Linked DNA regions of Homo sapiens: region 2 is linked to region 1. Evidence: fine-mapped expression QTL. A gene starts in region 1. The other region holds a variant in brackets. All regions are shown on one strand. Distances are from middle to middle.

Region 1 (4,000 bases):
GGGGGGTGGATATAGCTCTCTGGGGTCCCCTCCAACTCTGCAGTCTTGAATCTGCATGTTTGGTGGTCTGGGATTCAGATGCCTGTTTCAGTCTCCCTCTTAAAGATGACAGCACTTCTCATTCTGACCAATGAGATGGTTTCACTCTAGTTTCCAGTCCCCGGCACTACTCCTGGACATCTCACCGACATGGACAGTTTGTGGCCCCTGAGGTGTGCAGGGACCAAGGTACCAGAGGCTGCAGCACAAGGTCTTAACCCTCTTCCTGGGCTACAGAGAAGAGCAAGACCACTTGGCACAAGGACCAAGAAGCCTTCCTGAGCTAGAAGCAGGAAAAAGGACCAGGGAGGTTTTGCCTCAAGGCACAAGTAGCTGCCTACCCCACAGTTTTATTTGTTTTATTTTATTTATTATTATTATTATTATTTTTAGAGACAGGGTCTTTCCATCTTGCCCAGTCTAGTCTCAAACTCCTGAGCTCAAGTGATGCTCTCTCCCAAAGTGCTGGGATTACAGGTGTGAGCCGCTGTGCCCAGCCCCCACATTGTTTTAAAGGACCCTAGGCCAGGTGCTGTGGATCACATCTGAAATCCCAACACTTTGGGAGACTGAGGCAGGCAAATCACTTGAGCCCAGCAGTTCAAGACCTGCCTGGGCAACATGACAAAACCCCGTCTCTACAAAAAATACAAAAAAAATTAGCTAGACATGGTGGTGCGCACCTGGAGTCCCAGCTACTTGGGAGGCTGATGTGAGAGGATCACCTAAGTCCAAGGAGGTTGAGGCTGCAGTCAGCTGAGATCATGCCACTGCACTCCAGCCTGAGCCAAAGAGTGAGACTCTGTCTCAAAAAACAAACAAACAACAACAACAACAAAAGGACCCTAAATAGCTTCCTCTACCTCACAAAATATCACTCCATTTGCTGCCTTAAGTATAAAATCCCATGATCAAGGAAAAAAGACTTTCACTCCACAATGAAAGAGGGGAATTTAGATGAAAGTTTCTATAGGCAAGGTCATACCCTGCATAATAGTAACACTCCAAAATCAGCAAGAGACCTTAGAATCTGAGAGCAGTTTGGAGTGGGAGAGAGAGAATGAGGACAGAGTTCTGGGCACTCTTAAAAAGAACAAAAGCCCAGAGGTGGGAGATGAAGGCATCTAGAATGTGCTTGACTGGTGTCACTACTTTGTGCTAGGGTTGAGTCCTATTCCCACATGGCCAACAATGGAAGCTTCCTTCTTTCTCTCTCTCACAGCTGCAAAAACTGATGTGATGGCCTGGGAATCAGGACTGGCAACTGTGTGCTCCTGGGCAAGTCACTTCCCCTTACAGATGAGGTTCTGGGCTCAGATGAGGTTCTGGGCTCAGAACCTCATCTGTAGGATGAGAGGGTTGGACAGCTTGGTCTCTAAGGTCTTTTCTGCCTCTGCCATTTTAAGATTCTCAACTCCTCAGAATCTTCTGCAGAGCACTGAGTAGGACTGGGCTATAGGAGAACAGCTAAATTTAAGGCCCAGAGCCCTGGCAGAGGCTGGGATGGTGCAGCTGCAGCTGTGGCCCCGGGGTGGGCCCCTGCCTGCCCTCCCACCATCTCTGCTTACCCGCAGCCAGCTGCATCCATGCACAGATCTTATAGACTGTGGCCGTGTTGCAGATGAAGAACAGGCTGAAGCAGATGATGGAGCCAATGATGAGGAACATGCCCAAGGCCACAAAGAACATGGCAGTCTTGAAGGCTCTAGAGGGGATGGAGGAGAAGTCTAGGGGGCCGCCCTTGCAGATGAGCTCGGAGGACAGCACGTTACCCACGCAGTAGGAGAAAAGGCCGAAGTAGCCTGCCTGCGGTGTGTTGACGCTGTCGCCGATCCAGTAGGGCTGGATGAAGAGGGCCATGACCAGTACGGAGAAGCAGATGGTGAGGGTACCCCACATCACGCCCACGGCTCGCGAGTTCCGCACATAGTTGGTATGGTAGATCTTGGCTGCCTCCTGGGCCGGCAGCAATTTCACCATGGTGAGGGCAGCAGGCCCTGGGCTGGGGTCCCGTGGGCTGCAAGTCCGTAGCTTTGTGGATGGAGGCCTAGAAGCAGGTCACTCCCCAGCGGGGTTTGGGGAGGAGGCTGAGGTCAGGGCACCAGGTGAGGTCCCTTCAAGGCAAGGGGAAGAGGCTTAATAGGACAAGGACAACCTTGATTTGGTCAAGGAAAGCTTGCCAGGTGCCTGTGTCCGCTCTAGCCGAGGCTGTCTCCAGTCTCCTGCCTCCTCCCAAGCCCACCAGGGCCTGCTGGCGCCGCCCTGCCCGTCTCCCTCTTCCCGGCTCACGGCTCCCGAGAGCCCCGCCCCCTCCTCCGTCCGCGGAGGGCGCCGTTTCAGCACCGCGGCCAGCGCCCCGGGGTTCCGGGCGAGGGGCGGGGCCTGCAGCAGAGGCGGGGAAGGGGCAGAGCTCCCACTACAGGCCCCCGCCGCGGGGAATCGGAACACCGTTCACCTTCCTGAACCGAGATGACAAGAATTGGGAAGGTGGGGATGTGACTGACACATTCCTACTGCTCAATTCCAGCAGCAAAAACGCTTTCCCCCCGCAAAAGCGCTGTCCACATCCCATCCCACCCCGCCCCTGCCTGGCTCCCTAGTCGCCTTCCCAGAACCTCCAACTCCACCACTCCGGAGGTCAGCAAAGCCTTTCCTGGTTGCCTTCTGGTCACCGGTTTTTCGTCCTTAGCATTCAGTCAACGATTTCTAAAAGCATACTATGTGTTAAGATTATGTTGGAGGACATCTAAGCAAAACCACAGATAAAAAAGACAGGGCCCCCGTCCTCAAAGACAGTGAAATATTTACATATATAATATACGTATATATGTAGTCTATATAAATATATATATAAAACGCCTGTATATGCAGACTGATTGTGTGATAACAGAAGCAACTACAAAGTATAGCAGACAACATTCTTTATGAGCCTTCTCAGACCTGAACATATGTGTTTTGTCAAATACAATGCCTTTCTCCCCTTGTTTCTATTTGTTTGTTACATATTTCCCCATTTAAATATATATATGTTTTAATATATTATATATATACATATTTCTCCTGATTTTATAGGTAAATACATGGCTAGTGTAAAGAACTAGGAAAATTCCACTGGGCGTGGGGCTTACGCCTGTAATCCCAGCACTTTGGAAGGCCAAGGCAGGCGGATCATGAGGTCAGGAGATCGAGACCATCCTGGCTAACACAGTGAAACCCCGTCTCTACTAAAAATACAAAAAAATTAGCCGGGCGTGGCAGCACGCGCCTGTTGTCCCAGCTGCTGGGGAGGCTGAGGCAGAAGAATGGTGTGAACTCGGGAGGCGGAGCTTGCAGTGAGCCGAGATCGCGCCACTGCACTCCAGCCTGGGTGACAGAGCAAGACTCCGTCTCAAAAAAAAAAAAATAATAATAATAATAACACCAACGTCCGGAGCTAAGGAAAGACAAGACAATCTTAAAAACATGGACTTTGGGGTTCAACAGGCCTGGATTTGAATGAGCTACTTACTAAGTAACCATCCATGGACTTAACCTTCCTTCCGGAGCCTCAGTTTCGCCATCTATTAAATGCAGGAAATGCACTTACGCCGGGCGTAGTGGCGGGTGCCTGTATTCCCAGCTACTCAGGAGGCTGAGACAGGAGAATTGCTTGAACCCCGGGAAGCAGAGGTGGCAGTGAGCTGAGATCGCACCATTGCACTCCAGCCTGGGCAACAAGAGCAAAACTCCATTTCAAAAAATAATAATAATAATTTTTTTTTTAAAGTGCTCAAAGGTACATTAGTGGTCTCTAATCCCAGCACTTTGGGAGGCCAGGCAGTCCGATCACTTGAGCTCAGGAATTCTAGACTAGCCTGGGCAACATAGCAAGACTCCCGTCTCTACAAAAAATACACAACTTAGCCAGGCATAGCCAGGCATGGTGGTGCTTGCCTGTAGTCGCAGCTACTTGGGAGGTTGA
Region 2 (4,524 bases), 22 kb after region 1:
CTCGAACTTCTGACCTCAGGTGATCCACCCGCCTCGGCCTCCCAAAGTGCTAGGATTACAGGCATGAGCCACCGCGCCCAACCCTCTTTCTTTCCTTTCCTTTTTTTTTTTTTTTTTTTGACAAAGTCTCACTCTGTCACCCAGGCTGGAGTGCAGTGGTGCAATTATAGCTCACTGTAGCCTCAACCTCTAGGTTCAAGCAATCCTCCTGGCTCAGCCTCCCGTGTAGCTGGGACCACAGGCACACACCACCATGCCCAGCTAATTTTTTTATTTTTTGTAGAGATGTTACAGGTAGTTAGACAGGCATGAGTGGGGTAGGAGAGGGCTCTCCCCCACCCACCAGGAATGTCAGGTGATGGTTCAACAGTTATCACATTGCCTCTCTAAAAATGATAATTTGGCAGTTAGGCTCCAGGGAGAGACAGGCTTCTAATGGTCCACAGCTGTTAACATTAAAGTGTCCATTGAAAGCAGGGGCCAGAGAGAAGCAAAAAGGGCTTCCAATAAAATCTCAGGTGTTGGGTGAGTGAGCCCGGGGAATGCACATTAAGAGAAAAAATGGAGGAGTATGAATTTCCGGGGACAGGGCCAGGCATGGTGGCTCACGCCTGTAATCCCAGCACTTTGGGAGGCCGAGGCGGGCAGATCACGAGGTCAGGAGATCGAGACCATCCTGGCTAACACGGTGAAACCCCGTCTCTACTAAAAATACAAAAAATTAGCTGGGCGTGGTGGCGGGTGCCTGTAGTCCCAGCTACTTGGGAGGCTGAGGCAGGAGAATGGCGTGAACCCGGGAGGTGGAGCTTGCAGTTAGCTGAGATTGCACCACTGCACTCCAGCCTGGGTGACAAAGCGAGACTCTGTCTCAAAAAAAAAAAAAAAAAAAAATTTCCAGGGGCACACTCCACAGGAAAAGGGAACAAAGCCTCAGATGGGCATGCGTACAACTTCCTAAACACCCTGCATGTGCTCACTTCCCAAGGGTAAGGAGGACACTGCGCATGTGGTCAGCTCACCCTAAGGGAAGAATCAGGGGAGAGAGGCACACGACACTGGAGGTAGGCAAGACTGTTAAGGGGTAGGACCAAGGTTAAACACTGCACTTGCCCTTCAAGTTGCCCACTTGGGACTCTTCCAAGTGTACTTTCCATTCTTTCCTGCTCTAAAGCTTTTTAATAAACTTCCACTCCTGCTCTGAAACCTGCCTCAGTCTCTTTTTCTGCTTTATGCCCCTCAGTTGAATTCTTTCTTCTGAGGAGGCAAGAATTGAGGTTGCTGTAAATGCATACAGATTCATTGCCAATAACTCAGATACCTTCCACCAGTAAGAGACAGGAGTCTTGCTTTGTTGCCCAGGTTGGTCTCGAACCTCTGGGCTCAGACAATCCTCCCACCTTGGCCTCCCAAAATGTTGGGATTACAGCCATGAACCACCACACCTGGCTTGAATTTTAAATTTTGTTGAATTTTAATCAATGTAAATCTAAGTAACTATATGTGGCTAGTGTAAACCAAAAATAAAATTTGAAGCCTCCCACCACCACCAATCCACAGCCATCTCAGTCGACTCCTTCCTTGGCCAGGGCACTCTAAAATTTAACCTGAAAGACTGGTTCAGGCCATGACGGGAAGTGGGGGTTGGACATGCCTCATTAATACCCCTCCAGCATTAACATTAACAAAGACCTTAAGTCTGATCAGAAACATGTACAATCTATTTTCTATGAAGCCTATTACTGGAGGCTTCATCTGCATGATAAAACCTTGCTCTCCTCAACCCCTTATCTTAACCCAGACATTCCCTTCTGCTGATAATAGCTGTTCAACCAACTGCCAATCAGAATTTGTTTAAATCTACCTATGACCTGGAATGGAAGTCATGCCCCCCACTTCAAGTTGTCCCACCCTTCCAGATCAAACGAATGTAAATCTTACAGGTACTGA[C/T]TGACATATTATGTCTCCCCAATGTGTATAAAAGCAAGCTATACCCCAAAAAACAAAAAACAAAAAAAAAGCAAGGTGCACCCCAGCCACCTGAGGCTGTATCACAGGTGTGTCCCTAACCTTGGCAAAATAAACTTTCTAAATTGACTGAGACCTGTCTCAGATATTTTGGGTTCACACTAGTAACTGCACTATTGGACACACACAGCTCTAGAGAGGGAAGACAGGGAAGAGATACATAAGTGAAATGATACGGTATCACAGAAAAAACGTTGAGCAAAATAAGTCAGATTTTTTTTTTTTTTTTTTTTTGGAGATAGAGTCTCGCCGTCGCCCAGGCTGGAATGCAGTGGTGCGATCTCGGCTCACTGCAAGCTGTGCCTCCCAGGTTCACGCCATTCTCCTGCCTCAGCCTCCTGAGTAGCTGGGATTACAGGCACCCGCCACCACGCACAGCTAATTTTTTTTGTATTTTTAGTAGAGACAGGGTTTCACTGTGTTAGCCAGGATGGTCTTGATCTCCTGACCTCGTGATCTGCCTGCCTCGGCCTCCCAAAATGCTGGGATTACAGGCATGAGCCACCGCGCCCAGCCCCCCTTTTTTTTTTTGAGACAAAGTCTCACTCTACTGCCCAGGCTGGAGTGCAATGGCACTTTCTTGGCTTAGTTCAACCTCTGCCTCCCGGGTTCAAGCAATTCTCCTGCCTCAGCCTCCCAAGTAGCTGGGATTATAGGCATGTGCCACCACACCCAGCTAATTTTGTATTTTTAGTAGAGATGGGCTTTCACCATGTTGGTCAGGCTGTTCTCGAACTCTTGACGTCAGGTGATCCACTTGCCTCGGCCTTCCAAAGTGTTAGGATTACAGGCGTGAGCCACTGCGCCTGGCCCAAATTTTTTTTTAAAAGTACATACTGTGTGATTTCATCATACAAAGTTCAAAACTAATCTATAATAATGGAAGTCAGGAGACAGTTGCCTTTGGTGCTATTGACTAGGAGAGTAAGAGTGAGGCTTTTGGGGTAATGAAAATGTCCTATATCTTGTTCTGACGGTAGTGATGAGGGGGTCTGCATAGGTTCGAATCCATTGATTTCCATGTAAACTCAAGATCTGAGCACCTAGTAAGGTGTGATTTTTACCACATATGTTATATACATAACAATAAGTAATATTTATATTATATATGTATAATCCTATTATGTACGATTATGTGCTATAAAGAAAATAAGGCAGGAAAGGAGGATTGGCTATAGCCGCCTCCCGGCCTCCCTGCTTCCATCCTTGCCAGTGACCTCCCCCAGGTACCCCCTCACCATCCCCACTCTCACTTCCACCTCCCCAACCTCCTCAAGTCAGTTCTTCCCAGAATAGCTAGAGGAGTCTTTTTTAAAAGATAATTCCCACAATGCCATTCTCTGGATTCAAAGCCATCACTGGGGCTCTGAATCCACACCTGGCCTGGCCCCAGGGCATTTGCGCTTGCTGGCCCTCTGCCCAGAGCACCCTGTCCTGCACTCTTTGCCCGGCTGCCTCCCCCTCCTGCCTCAGGCTGAAGACTTCCTGGACACCAGCAGAGCAGTCCCCATCACCTGGTTGTACTTTGTTCACAACACTTATGACTCTCTGAAATCATCTTATTTATATGTTTAAAAATAATTTATTTCCCCCGCTAGCAACCTCAGCTCTGGGACATGGATCTTCTGCTCTCACGTTCACTGCTATATTTCTTAGCCCCCTTGGACTAAAGTCCTTACACATTGCAGGTGCTGAATGCATAACTGTTGAATAAATGAGAATATTGTAACTGTGTTCCATTTATCTCTCTGAGCTCATCTCCCATGATTTCCACTCTCTCTTACTCCTCTTTGCTATTCCTTGAATATGCCAGCACATTTCCGCCCCCAGACCTTTGCCCTGGCTGTTCCCTCCACCTTGAATGCTCTTCTCCCAGAGACCCCCCTGCTTTGCCGGTTAGGAAGGACTTCCCTCCCTTTAGGTCTTTGCTAAAATTTCACATTCTTAGTAAACTCTTCCCTGAGCACCCCATTTAAAACTGCAAACCCTGGCCAGGTGCGGTGGCTTACGCCTGTAATCCTAGCACTTTGGGAGGCCAAGGCGGGTGGATTGCTTGAGGTCAGGAGTTCAAGACCAGCCTGACCAATACGGTGAAACCCTGTCTCTACTAAAAATACAGAAAAAAAAATTAGCTGGGCGTGGCAGTGGGTGCCTGTAATCTCAGCTACTCGGGAGGCTGAGGCAGGGGAATCGCTTGAACTCAGGAGGCTAAGTTTGCAGTGAGCCGAGATTGCCCCACTGCACTCCAGCCTGGGTGACAAAGCAAGACTCTGTCCCAAAAAAAAGAAAAAGAAAAAGAAAAAAAAAAAAAACACCTGCAAACCCTTCTCACACCACCACTCCCACAGCTCGATTCTTATTTTCCCTTTCCTTGCTTATCACCTGAGATAGATGCTATTATTAATAGCATCTATTGTAATGTTTTACTTCTTTGCCTCACACACTAGAGTGACAGCTCTACAAGGGCAAGGATTTTTATCTTTCTTGCTCACAGCCCTA

Evidence for each region. PIP is the estimated chance that this variant, and not a neighbour inherited with it, causes the effect. A credible set is the group of variants that fine-mapping cannot tell apart.
Region 2: its variant is the best candidate, but not a certain one, in a credible set for the expression of LHFPL5 in pancreas (GTEx, PIP 0.65).

What each region holds. Positions count from the first base shown.
Region 1 is chr6:35,803,690-35,807,689 of GRCh38, reverse strand. It overlaps LHFPL5 (LHFPL tetraspan subfamily member 5), which reads right to left and starts at 2,338. Exons shown (of 4, transcript NM_182548.4): 1 at 1,608-2,338. The coding sequence starts at 2,019. RefSeq lists a silencer at 2,300-2,469.
Region 2 is chr6:35,781,542-35,786,065 of GRCh38, reverse strand. All of the region lies in intron 1 of CLPSL1 (colipase like 1), which reads right to left. Among named protein-coding and RNA genes, the nearest start is that of CLPSL1, 2.8 kb to the right of the region's middle. RefSeq lists an enhancer at 3,435-3,936. The variant C/T (reference allele first, on the strand shown) is at 1,948.